Regions from separate parts of the Homo sapiens genome. Here regions 1 and 3 are each linked to region 2. The links come from fine-mapping of genetic effects on gene expression. A gene starts in region 2. Each other region holds a variant in brackets. All regions are shown on one strand. Distances are from middle to middle. Region 1 overlaps CMTM6 (CKLF like MARVEL transmembrane domain containing 6). Region 2 holds the start of CMTM6 (CKLF like MARVEL transmembrane domain containing 6). Region 3 holds the start of LOC124906226 (a long non-coding RNA gene).

Region 1 (5,283 bases), 21 kb after region 2:
AGTAATTTAACCTAATAGTATCTTCAAAATGGAATTTCTGTTTTGATATTAATAACTTTTTTCATTTTCACCTAGGCTGAGTTGCCTAGTCACGTATTTTCCTTATCGCATCTGTGGGTCAATCTAACCATGCAAATATTTTTGTTTTGTATCATTTTATAGGATTTAATGTTTATCTGTTAACCCTACTTTCATATATTAGCCCTCCACATATAAACATGCACACATAAGGCAGAACATTAATATTTTGTGAGACTTTGACTAATAGCCATTATTCTGGAAGTTTTTCTTTTATAACTTCTTTCCATTTTTTGATGACTTAAAAAAATTTTTTTTACCATTAAAGAGTAGTCGTGTATAAGATAAAATTCATGAACATCTTGTTTATATGAAACATTCTCCAAGCCAAGTAGGAAATGTAAGATTATATTCCAAAATTCTCATATAACCTTTCCTCCTTTTTTTCCTCAGGTGTTTGGATTTATAGCAAGTTTTATGTTCCTACTTGACTTTATCACTATGCTGTATGAAAAACGACAGGAGTCCCAGCTGAGAAAACCTGAAAATACCACTAGGGCTGAAGCCCTCACTGAGCCACTTAATGCCTAAAGACTCTGGGGAGCAGATGTTACCTAAGGTAGTGACCCTGCATTGTGGTGCCTGAGCCCTGGCAGAAGCTCTTGTAAAATTTGTTAATTGTTTAAACCACTTCTTTTGGAGAGCAAGGGGAAGGTCAAGAAGGCAGTTTTATCAATATTGTGTCAGTCACCACAAAGTAGGCCAGATAAGTTAAAAAAAATTTTTTTTTAAATAATAATTGAAACTTATCTCAAATGGAGATTTTGGTGGGAGGAGGAGAAAACAATTGTTTTTAAATCACACAGCTCAACGGTTGATAAATGATTCTGTCATTCTGTTACAGGTCATTCTTTTACTAGGCTTAGCTTCCAAATTATGCTTTATAGCTGTATAAACATCGTGATTATATTCATCTACTTAGAAATTGTTTTATTTTTAAATTAATTTGCTTAGCTGTTTGTTTTGATGCTTAGATTATGTTCTGTTAATGGGAATTTAACATATTTAAGAAACCAATATTTAAAATGTTGGTCTAGGTTTTTTTCCTTAACATATATTACCAGGCTTTACTGTATTTCACTCAGCCTTAAATGTTATAATATTTTTGGATAACGGTTATTAATTCTTTGAGACCTTCGTATAGCCTATAAAATGTATGGGAGATGTTGGTATTTTATGTGTATAAAAGCAACAATATCAGCAACTTCGTGTTTATACTGCACCTTGGTTGTTGATGTCAAGTAAAAAAAAGATTGTTTTGTAACACATAAAAAAATGGAAGAAACTGATACCACACCTAAGGACCAAAGATAAGAAAGACTTTTTGCCCAAGACAGTGAAAGTAATTATAAAAACAAGCTTTGACCACTTACCAAGTATCTGAAGAGATGAGTTCATACTATGATTTAGAAAGTGGTTCAATTCCCCTGTTGGCATATGATTATTTTTACTAAAATTAATACAGCTCTGTGGGTCTTCCTTAGTGTTTTCTTTGAAGCCAATCTGTTTTTTTTAGGACACCAGCCTTTGGTTTTTCATCTGTTCGAGATGCCTCTTCTCTGTCTCCTTATCAGATAGAAATGGAGTCATGTGCTGCTGCTTCATCTAGCAGAGGTTGGCCTCTGGCTCTGACACTTTTTGTCAGTTGTCTTTAGGTGGTCCTGAATCTTGGGCCCTTTTGATTGTGAATACTGTGTAGCAGGATCTTGAGAGTCCTTGTTCTTACATAGGCATTGCTCTAGTTTGTCTTTGGCAAAAAAAAAAAAAAAAAAAAGTAAATATCCAGGGAACCCTGCCCAGACTAATACTGTTGGTGGCATAAGAGAATCAAGCCATTCTCAAGAGATAACTTCATAACCAGAATTGTCTGTTGGCTAGCAGCTGTCACAGATAGGCAGGGCACTTGGGATATGACCTTTCTGTCCAGGTGATTCACAGACTAGACCTTTCTTATCCTCCTCCTAGAGTTTTGACTTGGGACTCTAGTGTTAAGATGATGAGCCCGTGCATCAGGTCCTTCTGCACTTTGGTGGAAGTCTCCCAGGGTAGGTTTCCTATTTGAAACAGTGGAATCATGTTTCCAGTGATAAAGTTTAATGACCTCATCCTTTTTTTTTTTTCTCATCTGCCATTTGTGTGTCTTAGATGGGTTTTAATTGCATGAATGTGGCTAATGTGGTTCTCAGAAATTGGTCAGTATGGCCCAACATAGCTTCTGCTCTGTCTTACTGACTCAATACCTTTAGGATTTGTATCAGAGTTTGGATACTAGTGTTAGTGGTGGTGTCACCACTACTTAATTGGGAGATAATGAAACCAATCATGGATGCTGTTTTTATTGGGCATGTCATCTAAGAGAGGAGAAATAGCTGGGTTTTGGGTCTAATTATGAATAAGGACTGATTCAGAAAACGAGTTTATGGTAGGTAGACTAAAGTTTCACATCAGACTGTACCATTGTGATTTAGACCTATCTAAAATTCAGAGCATATCATCTGGGCTACCTCAGGGTCACCACCCATGTATTGGGCTTAGTCAGGATTGACAGATACATTCTCAGCTGGCCTGTCATATAAAACATACTGTCATTGAGCTTAAGCTCCGCTTGTTCTGAGGTTTCACCTCCATGTGTTTCATTGGTGCAAAAGTGGATCTCTTAGTTGGTCACTTAATTCTTTCTTTTTCAGAAAGATAGTATGTTCACTGGTATATTTGGTCACTCTTAGAACCTTCCTTCACATTGTTTTTTATGGGACCCATGAATGGTTAGCCTTTCTTTTCTATTGTAGAAGGAAATAAATAGGAGTAAAAAGACCATTGTAGTAAATAAGTTCAAGGGGAACTTGGGACCAGAAACCACTGTTATGTACAAAAAAATGGCAAATTCAATAAACTCAAATTTAAAATAATTTTTAAATTAACAGTTATGATAAATTTTATATTTTATACAAATAGATTGCTTAGAATGGTTCTCAAGAATTATAAGAGAAATGAACTCACAGTACAAAAATTTTATAATTACTATACTTGTGTTTTGTTTGGGGGCTGGGAAATGTATTTTTACATTGTAGCCAATCATTTTATATTTGTCAATTTAAATCTTATGGGTCTTTTTTTTTT[A/TTA]TCTCTCTTGATGTCAGATTTTATAGTCTTTTTAAATAAATCCATTTAATTAAAACGTTCTTACCTTTGTAAGTGTTTATTACAGAAGTGTGATGTTTAAATGAAAAGCTGTCTCTGTAGTTGTGGGAGTTGGCTGCACAATCTTGTTGAGTGCCTATATAGAATACTAGATTTTAGATATATCTAGGATAGAAAAGAAACAAATCCATTTCCCATCCATAAACTGTCCCTCTTGTTGGAAAGTTAGAATACACATTTAAACAACATTTTTAGGGAACCACAGAGGAAGACTTACAAATGGCTTTAAATACTTCCAAAGAAGCAATTTAGACTCCTTGTCACATTTCTAGATGTGGCTAACAATGCTAAAAACAAAATAGGCACATTATCTTAGGAACTGTTCAATGATTGGGAAAGTGTGAAGCAAAATTATTAGGGTGGTGCTGGTAAAACTACAGCTATTTGTGTAGTTTGCGAAATTCCTGCCTCCACCCTGTGTGAGAATAACAGGGTCTTTATAGTCATCAAGAACTCACTGGAATTTGTACATTCTTCAGAGTTTAGAGTTGAGTTTTGTTTTGATAAAGAGCATTGTATCAATATGCAATAAGCTGCAAGAAGCAGAAAATCTAATTAAATGTGTCTTAAACAGTAAGAAAAACTTATTTCATAAGACATCTGGGTACATTGGTGAATTCAGTGGCCAAATTTTTCTACAAGTACAGTAATGTGTGTCATAGAAATTGATATAATAAAGGGGGAGGCTGGGCGCAGTGGCTCACTCCTGTAATCCCAGCACTTTGGGAGGCCAAGGCAGGCGGATCAGCTAAGGTCAGGAGTTCGAAACCAGCCAGGCCAATGTGGTGAAACCCCATCTCTAGTAAAAATACAAAATTTAGCTGGGTGTGGTGGCACATGACTGTAACCCCAGCTACTTTGGAGGCTGAGGCAGGAGAATCGCTCAAACCCCAGAGGCGGAGGTTGCAGTGAGCCGAGGTCATGCCATTGCACTCCAGCCTGGGAAACAAGCGCAAAACTCCATCTCAAAAAAACAAACAAACAAACAAAAAAACAACGGGGTGGGGGGAGAAGTATTGTCTTTTCCCCAACATTTTTATATTTAGCTACTTTTTAAAATTTTTGAATTTGTTTGTTTGTTTTGGAGACAGAGTCTTGCTCTATCCTTCAGGCTGGAGTGCAGTGGCGCCATCTTGGCTCACTGCAACCTCTGCCTCCCGGGTTCAAGCGATTCTCCTGCTTCAACCTCCTGAGTAGCTGGGATTACAGGCGCATGCCACCAAACCCTGCTAATTTTTTTGTGTTTTTAGTAGAGATGCGGTTTCACCATGTTGGTCAGGCTGGTCTCAAACTCCTGACCTCAGGTGATCCACCTGCCTTGCCTCCCAAAGTGCTGGGATTACAGGCATGAGCCACGGCGCCTGGCCTGAAATATTTCAAGTACTGGAAGCACAGAGGATAATACCTGTTGTAGACTCCACTCACTCACCTTTAATAGATTATAACATTTTGCCATATTTGCTTCAAGGTTGTAACTCTGGTTCATTCATTTTAAATGCTGTTTGGTATTTCATTGTATGGATATGTCACAATTTACTTATTCTCCTACTGATAGAAAAATTCTAACAGCATTTTCAGCTTTTGACCATCTTAACATTACAGGGAACAAATGTATTTGAACATCTCTTCTTGTGCACATGTGAGAATTTACATGGTGGGTAACTACTTAGAAGTTAAATTGTCTGGTGGGTCAGAAGGTACGTTATGATTTCAGCATGGCTAAATATTTCCAGATGGATCTCCAAAGGGTAGACCCAGTTTATATTTCCCTCAGCAGTGAATGAGGTGCTGGTTTCCCCACTCTTGTAATGCACTTAATATTAGTTCAACTTAACATTTTTGCTCGTCTGGTACTGAAATGGTGCCTCTTTTTTTTTTTTTTTTTGTATTCTTCCTGTTTCTGGTGAACCTGATTGTCTTTTCACTTGTTTGTTGACCTTTATTTCTCAGAAATAGAAAAAATAATCTGAAAATTCATATGGAAGTGCAAAAGACTCTGGATTGCCA
Region 2 (5,283 bases):
AGAATCTTTGGGGCTAGATCTCCAAGAATCTTCCTTTTTAATTAATCTCACAGATGATTCTTCGCCATGTTGGAGTTTATGAATCACAGGCTAAATTTGTGTCTTCTTCTAAAAATGCAAAGAGAAGCAGAGACCCCTAGAGAATTGCATAAGTGTGCCCTAAACAAACCAAGAGGGTTGACGAAGTCTGTTCATCTTCTCTCTTGTCTCAAAGTATCCTTGTTTCTTTGTAACTTCCTCCCAATACTTTATTTTGAAAATGTTCAAACATACAGAAATGCTGAAATAATTGTACAGTGGACACCCGTATACTTCACCTAAATATTACCATTAATATGTTACTGCAGTTGCTTTATTAGAGATCCTTGTTGTTGTTGTTTTTTTAACAATGATTTTTTTTTTTGAGACGGAGTCTCGGTCTGTCGCCCAGGCTGGAGTGCAATGGTGTGATCTCGGCTCACTGCAAGCTCCGCCTCCCAGGTTCACGCCATTCTCCTGCCTCAGCCTCCCGAGTAGCTGGGACTACAGGCGCCCGCCACCACGCCCGGCTAATTTTTTGTATTTTTAGTAGAGATGGAGTTTCACCGTGTTAGCCAGGATGGTCTTGATTTCCTGACCTCGTGATCCGTCCCCCTCGGCCTCCCAGAGTGTTGGGATTACAGGCGTGAGCTACCGCGACCGGCCTGCTTTTTTTTTTTTTTGAGACGGAGTCTCACTCTGTTGCCCAGACCGGAGTGCCGTAGCGCGATCTCAGCTCACTGCCACCTCCACCTCCCGGGTTTGAGCGATTCTCCTGCCTCAGCCTCCCGAGTAGCTGGGATTACAGGCACACGCCACCACGCCCGGCTAATTTTTGTATTTTTAGTAGAGACGGGGTTTCACCATGTTGGTCAGTCTGGTTTCGAACCCCTGACTTCAGGTGATCCACCTGCCTCGGCCTCCCGAAGTGCTGGAATTACAGGCGTGAGCCACTGCGCCTGGCCTATCACAAATCTTTTATCCATCTCTCTAGTCATCAACTCATCTTAATTTTGGATGAATTTCAAAGGAACTTTTAGACATCAGTAGTGTCTAATTTGGGATGATAGTGACTTGAAGAATAATGGGGCAATGAATCCTTGTAGCCCTGGTGAAAATACAGTGGCCTTCCTTGTTGGACAGAATTGGTGGCATCTTGGCCTTGGGAGGACATTCAGAGTGCATGTAATCAGAGACAGAAGGGTAGTTCTGGCTGGTTGTAGGTGGCCCCTGCAGGGCAGTATCTACTTGTCTCTATTCATTTGAATGGGAGCTTTTGTTTGTTACTGGAAGAAGAAAGGGAGGTTTGGGGCCACGGAGAAGATGTAGCAGCTGATGGCAGCAGAAACCCCTTCTCTCTTCCATGGGTTTTGAGACTCCAATGGAGAGATGAGTTAGAAGCTGACGTTTTCTGGGTTAGCGTTTAGCAGCAAGGTTTCGAGTCAGACTGCTTAGGCCTGCATTCCAGCTGCTCCTGGCTGTTTGACCTTGGATATGATTTCAGCCTCTTGGCCTCAGTTTTCTCATTTGAAAATGAATGTAACCGACTTTATACTGTCGAACCTACTTTATATTGTTGTGAACATCCTGTAACTCAATCAACTTCAGTTGCTAAAATATAATTACATTCCTTGACAAGTTCACACAAAATTAACATATGTGACTGTAGCAGTTGGTGACCAAGAAAGAGAAAAAGGAAATGATTTTGAAAAGTGAGCCTAAATGGAATTTCGGGAGACGCGGGAGGGAGCGATTCTGAAAGTCCTTACAGACAACTCATTGTACTTCAAATGAAATACGAATTCTTCCCTTGGTCTGCAAGGCCTCCACATTATCTGGCCTTTGCCTACATCTCCAACATCTCCTTTCCTCCCGTACTTATTCCTAGCGACACAGGCCTTTGGGCTTCAGATTGAGTCAAACTCATTTGGTCCTCGGGACATTTGCACTTTCGTGAAAGGCTCTCCCCAGAACTTTACAAGCCTGGCTTCTCACACTTTGAGTCTCATTCAATTCAAAGATCATGGTCCTCAGAGAGGCCTTTCCTGACCACTCAGTTTAGTAGTGGCCATTTAAGTAGAGCACCCAATTCTCCATCCTTTTTTCCTTCTCCTTCCTCTTCTCCTCCTCCTCCATCTTCTTTTTTTTTTTAATAAATTTATCAAGCCACCAGAAATGCTGAATCCATTATTTTCGTATCATATTTTCACGTCACTTATCACTATCTGAAATTGCTATCCATCTGTTTTCTTGTTTATTGTCTGTCTCTGTTACTAGGGATCCTGTGATTTTGGGTAGTACTTGGCTGTCACCCAAGTACCTAGAACGGGGTTCACTGCACACCGAAAGTACGCAAAAATACTAAGTGAATGAATGTCAGGAGGATGAAAGATGGAGGGAGGTGAGAAATCCATCAAAGGCTCACAGAAAGAACTCAATTCTTGGATGAAAGTCGGAAGAATCCCAACAGCTAACAAGCAAATTTGCTGAGAGGGGGCGGGGCGGGCCAAGGGCGGGGGCGGGAAGGGGCGGAGTCAGGCGGAAGCCGGGGAGAAGGCCCAGGAAGTGACGGCCGCCTCCCGGCTACCGGGGACTTCTGGAGTCCGAGAAGTCAACGGCGCGGTTGCTGCGGCCGCCGCGCTCCCCGGCCCGAGGCGATGGAGAACGGAGCGGTGTACAGCCCCACTACGGAGGAGGACCCGGGCCCCGCCAGAGGCCCCCGGAGCGGCCTCGCTGCCTACTTTTTCATGGGCCGGCTCCCATTGCTCCGGCGCGTTCTCAAGGGCTTGCAGCTGGTGAGTCCGCGGTCAGGGAGGGCGAGCCCGGGCTGGGGAGCGGGGTCTGGCCCGGGCTTGGGAGGCCGCCGAGCTCCTTCGTTTCAGCTTGGTTGTTCAGTAAAAGGAGGTTTCCACACCTCTAGTTCCTTCCCTCTCAGCCTGGGGAAGGGGGCGTTACCCTCCGCCCTTCCGCCGGGCGGCCCCTCAGTCCCAAGGCTCTCCCCATCGGGATCCCACGAACTGGGGCCACCCAGCCTGTTAGGCGGGCTCAGGAAATGCGTCGGAGACCCAAGTCAGCCACTTCAACATCTTTCACTCATCCTCTATGGCGACTTTCCTCTCTTCTCTCTGCTGCTACCCTGCATTATCGCCCACAGTGCCTGTATTTAGACTGTGAAGCGCTGTTTATCTTTCTCTGGCTCTTGCGGTTTTCCTGCTGCGAGCCCATGGGGGCAGTTTAACTTGCTGGACAAAGTCCTGCGATACCACGCGTGGCATTGAGATGTGTGTGTATGTGTGTCCGGTAAATTGTCTTCTAAAAGTTTTATATTGACTGGAAAAGAATTATTTCAAAATTGAGCAATATGGGTTCTAAGTGGAAAGTCAAAAGGACAGCTTTTTGTAAGTATGTGCGGATAGCTGAACTAGGACATGGTATGCATCTTTCCATTTTATTGAGTTTATTTTAAGCAGTTGAAGTACCATAAACCTGTTCGTGAAAACATCAAAGCATCTTTGAGATTTAAATTATTCACTTTACAGTCGTGTTGGCTCCTATGTACTGTTCCAACCACTGATGGTTGAACCAGTTTAGGAAAAATAGAAACAGTTTAGGTTCTATTTCTGCAATAGAACCAGTTTAGGAAAAATCCGAATGCTTATGATGTTTATGAGTTTTGTCTTACTTTGTTTTGTTTTTTAACCATTCTAAGTAAAAATTAGCTCATTGGTTTCCTTGGAAAGAACTTAAATTCTTACAACTCAAATGACCCGAAGTTAAATTCTTAGAACTCTAGTGACCTACTTTTATTGAATAGAAAAACAGAAGTCGGAAAATCGGCACTGCTGTTTAGCGATCAAAATGATCACATCTGCTGATGACTGGGAAATCATTTGAAAGCAAGTGATAATGTGGCCTATGGAACCCAGTAGGATCTGGCCTTATCTTTCTCCCAGTCTCCCTCTAGGTGGTTCCACACTGGCCACCTTTAATTTATTACGAGGCATCAGGGGCTCTTTCCTGCCACTGTTCCTTTGCATAAGCTGTTCCTTCTACCTTCTTCCTTCTTCCTTCTCTTCTCTTGTCAGCTGTCACATGATGATTTTTAGGTATTAGCTGTATTTCTCTGCAGTAAAGCTAAAATTTTCTACGTGAATAGTAGAACTCTTTAGAACAGAAAAGAATATTCATCTGAAGCTTTTTTTTTTTTTTTTTTTGAGACCGAGTCTTGCTCTATCGCCAAGGCTGGGGGCAGTGGCGCAATCTCGGCTCACTGAAACCTCCGCCTCCCGGGTTCAGGCAATTCTCGTGCCGAGTAGTTGGGACTACAGGCACGCACCTCCATGCCCGGCTGATTTTTTTTTTTTTTTTTGGTAGAGACGGGGTTTCGCCGTGTTGACCAGCCTGGTCTCAAACTCCTGACTTCAGGTGATTTTCGCCCTCCGGGCCTCCCAAAGTGCTGGGATTACAGGCGTAAGCCACTGCGCCCAGCCCATCTGAAGCATTCTTGCTGCTCGAAAAAAATCATCTGTATTGGTTTGCTGCCCACAAAATCTCCTGTTTTCAGTTGCCTTTATTATTTTCTTTCTAATAAAAAGTGGCAAAGCTAAAGTAAATTTTCTGATTACCTTCTTATAGTTTAGTAAACTGTAGTTTCGTATCTTTGGAATAGAACATAACCAGTTTCCTTCCTTATTGCTGTTATAGAAGAAAACATGGAACACAACCAGAAATTTTTGTGGTAAATGTTATACTTGGACACAGAGAAGATGAATTTGCCTTAAAAGATCGTTAGACTATTATTAGTTCTCCATCATTCATAAGAAGAAATGGAGAAAAAATAAAAACTAATATCTCTTTATGAAATCCATTTATTTGTTTATGGGGAAATTGTCATGTTACAGGAATGCTTTCTTTAATGTGGAGATTTAAAAGTACTTTTTCATTACTGCCTTTCACTTTGATGGTTGTCTTTTTGTTCCTTTGTTTGTTTTGATAATGTCTTATCTCTTCACAGTAACAGTATATTACAGGAATTATCCAGCAAGTCCCAAGAAGGTTACATATGAAGTCGGTAAAAGTTGTCTTCCAGCCTGGGGCTATAGGCAAGGTCTTTGCCTTAACTCAAATTCTTCCTTTAGATAGATTGGTTGTTTTACTTTAAATGTTTAATTTTTTTAAAAAACTAAACAGAATTGCGAGCTCCAGTAAGGAAACAACTGTAATGGAGAAACCCGTAATCAGAAGAGGAGGTGTTTTAACAAGGGA
Region 3 (5,283 bases), 77 kb before region 2:
CTTACCACAAACATTAAATGCAAACATTCTGTATCATCTAAATAATGCAAATTAACTGCCATGTTCCTCAATTTAACATTAACATAATTTGATTCAAGACTTACCTTTGGTGGGCCGGGCACAGTGGCTCACGCCTGTAATCCCAGCACTTTGGGGGGCTGAGGCTGGCAGATCGCCTGAGGTCAGGAGTTCGAGACCAGCCTGGCCAACATGATGAAACCCTGTTTCTACTAAAAATACAAAAATTAGCCGGGCGTGGTGGTGGAAGCCTGTAATCCCAGCTACTAGGGAGGCTGAGGCAGGAGAATCACTTGAACCTGGGAGGTGGAGGCTACAGTGAGCCAAGATTGCACAGCTGCACTCCAGCCTGGACAATGAGAGCAAAACTCTGTCTCAAAAAAAAATCTATCTATCTATCTCTATATATCTATATAGAGATAGATATTTATATATATTTGTATGTATTTCAGATAAATATATTAATATATATCTATATATTATATTGATATATTTTTACATACATATTATATCTATATTATATTGATATATATTTTTATATATGTATATCAGGATGAAAATTTTACATATATATGTATATATCAGAGTGAAAATTCCAGTAGTTTATCTGGATAGTCCTCATTTACCAATAGGTGAACTGAATATAGGATGAAGCTGACCCCTCAAAATAATCCTGGGATTTACTAAGGAAGGATCATAAAAGACAAAGTGCTTCTGGATTCCACTTTCACATTACTAGTCAACTTTAACTTTTTGTTCCCAGTAGCAAAAAGTTTAGGATCCTTAGAATCTCCTTAAATATCTTCAAATAAACAACTTTGTAACATTGTATGGTGTAAAAGAATGGATTTATTTTGCTTATAAAAAATTCCCACTGGGCAATTCTTTCATTCACTTTCCCGTGTGAGGAAAAAAGAAACATACATAATGTTTTGGTTGGTGGAGAATATAATAGACTATAATTCTAGGCTTACTTTTAGTAAAAGCAACAAGAAGTCATAATTAGCTCTAGACTAAAGTAGACTAAATTGATATGAATATGAAATCACCTGCAGCTACAAAAGATAGCACATTTCTAAAAATACCAGAGAATTATATTTTTTCCCTTTTTTGCCTAACGCAGAGCCTCCAAAGAAGAAAAACTTAATTACCTTTGTGACCTAGTGTTGGCAGATCTCAATCTATAAAATTAGTTATTAAATATCTTTTCCTTTAGGAAGCAAAGAGGGCAGTAGAGTGTAACACTGGAAATCTGAGAACTAAGTGGTACTAAAATCACTAAATAAAGGTAATGGACTTGAACTTCGGAGTATTTGATTACAAGAAAATTAGATCCTCCAAAAATATGTATAATAAATATGCAATTAACAATACATTAGTCAGTGGACCTTTTTCTTTCTTCTTTTCAGTGGCAAAGAATAGATTAAAACAATGATAACTAAGCACCCTAAAATTCCTATCTGTTTAGTATTGAAAAATGTGTAAGTAGATAATTAAAACACTTAAAGAATGCTTCCAGCCTAAAAGACAAGTGTCTTTGCTTTCCCTGTGCATCTCACTTAACATTAACATAATTTGCCCACTCAAGCTGCTGTATGAGTTGATTTTATAGGTTACTATCCTTCCATTCATCATCCATTTTCCAAGAATGAATATGGATATTGTGGTGAGAAGTTCAGTCTGAAATGAAAGGCAATTCTACTATTACCTTATCCTGGAATTAAAAAATATATATTCAGAGACGGTTATTTCTCAATGATACATTTCTAAGCCAATGAAAAGCAATTTCTTCGACAGGCACGGTGGCTCACGCCTGTAATCCCAGCACTTTGGGAGGATGAGGTGGGCATATCACCTGAGGTCAGAAGTTCGAGACCAACGTGGCCAACATGGTGAAACCCTGTCTCTACTAAAAATACAAAAAAATTAGGTGGCACAGTGATGCACTCCTGTAATCCCACGTATTTGGGAGGTTGAAACAGGAGAATTGCTTAAATTCGGGAGGCGGAGTTTGCAGTTAGCCGAGAGCGAGCTGTTGCACTCCAGCCTGGATGACAAGAGTGAAACTCCATCTCAAAAACACAAACCACAACCAAACAAAAAAATATTTCTTTGTAAAATTTTGTCCTAAAGTATACTTGCATGCACACATACACCTACCAGTACTTTTTTTTTTTTTTTAAGAAAGGTGGGATTTCACATTAGACGTAAAAATAAAAGCATTTTTTTTTTTTTAAGGTGCAGTCTCGCTTTGTTGCCCAGGCTGGAGTGCACTGGTTTGATCTTGACTCACTGCAGCCTCCACCTGCCAGGCTCAAGCGATTCTCCTGCCTCAGCTTCCTGAGTAGCTGAGATTACAGGCATGCCCCAGTATGTCTGGCTAATTTTTGTATTGTTGGTAGAAATGGGGTTTCACAGTGTTGGCTAAGTTGTCCTTGAACTCCTGGCCACAAGTGATCTGCCCTTTCCTGCTTCCCAAAGTGCTGGAATTACAGGCGACAGCCACTGCCCCGGGCACTTTCTGGCGGTTTCTCTGAAAAAACAAACACGTTAAAAGAGTCTATTTCTACTTTCTTTTAGGTATTTCTCCATCTCTCTGTGCTGATGTGTCTGGAATTGACAGGTTCTTCGTCTCACTGACTTAAAGAAGCCGTGGACCCTCACAGTGAGTGTTACAGCTCATAAAGGCGCCGCACGTGGATT[T/C]GCTCGTTGTGACATTCGGATGCTGAGACAGTTTCCTCCTTCTGCTGGGTTCACGGTCTCACTGACTTCAGAAAGGAAGCTGTAAACCTCCGCAGTAAGTGTTACAGTTCATAAACACAGCACGCACCCAAAAAGTGAGCAACAACAACATTTATTGCAAAGAAGGAAAAAACAAACCTTCCCCAGTAGGCAATCAAACCCGAGTGGGTTACCACTACAGGCTTGGGCAGCCTGCTTTTATTCTCTTATCTGGCCCCACCCACATCCTGCTGATTGGTCCATTTTACAGAGAGCTGATTGGTCTGTTTTACAGAGAGCTGATTGGTCTGTTTTGACAGGCTGCTGATTGGTGCATTTACAATCCCCGAGCTAGATACAAAAGTTCTCCAGGCCCCCCACTAGATTAGCTAGATACAGAGTGTCCATTGGTGCATTCACAAACCCTGAGCTAGACACAGGGTGCTGATTGGTGTGTTTACAAACTTTGAGCTAGATACAGAGTGCCAATTGGTGTATTTACAATCCCTTAGCTAGACATAAATGTTCTCCAAATCCCCACCAGACTCAGGAGCCCAGCTGGCTTCACCCAGTGGATCCCCCACTGGGGCCGCAGGTGGAGCTGCCTGCCAGTCCTGCGCCTGCGCCTTCACTCCTCAGCCCTTGGGTGGTCGATGGGACTGGGCGTCGGGGAGCAGGGGGCAGCGCTCGTCGGGGAGGCTCAGGCATGGTGGGCGGCAGGTCCCGAGGCCTGCCCTGAGAGAAGGCAGCTAAGGACCGGCGAGAAATCAAGCACAGCGCCGGTGGGCCGGCACTGCTGGGGGACCCAGCACACCCTCCGCAGCCGCTGGCCCAGGTGCTAAGCCCCTCATTGCCCGGCCAGCAGGGCCGGCCGGCTGCTCCGAGTGCGGGGCCCGCCAAGCCCACGCCCACCCGGAACTCCAGCTGGCCTGCAAGCGCTGCGCGCAGCCCCGGTTCCCGCTCGCGCCTCTCCCTCCATACCTCCCTGCAAGCTGAGGGAGCCAGCTCCGGCCTTGGCCAGCCCAGAAGGGGGCTCCTACAGTGCAGCGGTGGGCTGAAGGGCTCCTCAAGTGCCACCAAAGTGGGAGTCCAGGCAGAGGAGGTGCCGAGAGCGAGCGAGAGCTGCCAGCACGCTGTCACCTCTCACTAAGATATGATGTTCTGTGAGGGTCCACTTGATAAAAATCCCTAGGTGAGAAGCAAGAGGAAGGATAGGTCTGTAATTAGAGGGGCTGGTGACTGCAAAATGAATTAGATACCCATCATTTCATTCATTCTAAGGAGGTACTTAGAATGAGAAAAACATGACTCAAAGGAAAGCAAATATAAGCAACCGTGGGTGTTTGCTCGTCTTTAATGGGATCCCTGGTTGGGTCTGCTGGGAGAGACGGCTAGCAAGGACTCTGCAAATTCTAGCATTATCAGTTTGTCTCAAATGTCAGGAATGTTACCAAAAAAAAAGATTCACATATTGTGTAGAGGATGGGACTATTTAAACTCTGAAGTCCTTTTCAACGCTATCATTTGAATTGCTCAGAGTGAAACTTTAAGGGTCCACTCATCTTGCTTACTTCCTTTTTCTTTTGATTTTGGCTTTTCAGCCAGCATTTATATCAACTGTGACTGCCAGCATTTGGCACCATGGGTGAAGCAGGTTTTATTTGAAAATCTGCTTGTGGCAGCCTGTGGAACTGATATAATAGGAAGCAGCCCAAGTGGTAGCTGCCTTGTTTTGGTTCCCAAACAGAGAAGGAGGCATCCCCAAAAGAAAGAGGAAGTGGTTCTGCAGTACCCACCTCCAGACCTACGGAAAGTTCCCCTCCCAGTCAAACTAGTTTTCTGCAGAGCTCTTGTGTCTGTCCAGTGATCACTTTTCTTGAGATAGAGAAATACCCAATGTGACCTTGAGAAAGCTGATGAGTTTGCAGAGGACGCTGGTCGACAGAGAGAGAGGAGAGAAGAGAAGCAAGCAGAGAGGAGAGACGTGTAGCTCTTGGGAGACAGGAAGCTGGAGAGAGGAGGAGCTGTCTCACTTTTGGCTAGTGTTCCATTTCCCACTTACAAGCCCTGAGTCTCAGCTGAATTAGAAACCAAACTAAAAGGCAGAGCCATCTGGGATACACCCGGGGAATCCCAGTAGGACCTAAGCACTTCCCAGATTTAACACGGTAGTATTATTGATGAGCCTAAGGAAGCCAAGGGCCTTCAGGAAAACATAAATCTATATTTATATAACTTGTTAAAATAGGAAAGGAGTGGGGTGTGTAATATACTTTTAAGTGATTTATATTTTTAAAATGGTTAAGGCTGGGTGTGATGGCTCATGTTTGTAATCCCAGTGCTTTGAGAGGCTAAGACAGGAAGATGGCTTGAGTCCAGGAGTTTGAGACAAGCCTGGGTAACATAGTGAGAACTTCTCTCTACCAAAACAAAACAAAACAAAACAAAACAAACAAACAAAAATCAGCCTGGGTAACAAAGCAAAACCCTGTCTCTATAAAAACTTTGAAAATTAGCTGGGCGTGGTGGCTTGCACCTGTAGTC

What was found. PIP is the estimated chance that this variant, and not a neighbour inherited with it, causes the effect. A credible set is the group of variants that fine-mapping cannot tell apart.
Region 1: its variant is the best candidate, but not a certain one, in a credible set for the expression of CMTM6 in whole blood (INTERVAL, PIP 0.66).
Region 3: its variant is the best candidate, but not a certain one, in a credible set for the expression of CMTM6 in tibial nerve (GTEx, PIP 0.69).

Annotation. Positions count from the first base shown.
Region 1 is chr3:32,479,286-32,484,568 of GRCh38, reverse strand. CMTM6 (CKLF like MARVEL transmembrane domain containing 6) reads left to right here. Exons shown (of 4, transcript NM_017801.3): 4 at 472-3,257. The coding sequence ends at 609. Among named protein-coding and RNA genes, the nearest start is that of CMTM6, 21 kb to the left of the region's middle. The variant A/TTA (reference allele first, on the strand shown) is at 3,199.
Region 2 is chr3:32,500,138-32,505,420 of GRCh38, reverse strand. CMTM6 (CKLF like MARVEL transmembrane domain containing 6) reads left to right here and starts at 2,569. Exons shown (of 4, transcript NM_017801.3): 1 at 2,569-2,813. The coding sequence starts at 2,676. RefSeq lists silencers at 2,469-2,558, 2,629-2,858.
Region 3 is chr3:32,577,183-32,582,465 of GRCh38, reverse strand. It overlaps LOC124906226 (a long non-coding RNA gene), which reads right to left and starts at 3,758. Exons shown (of 2, transcript XR_007095860.1): 1 at 3,721-3,758; 2 at 2,857-3,474. The variant T/C (reference allele first, on the strand shown) is at 2,722.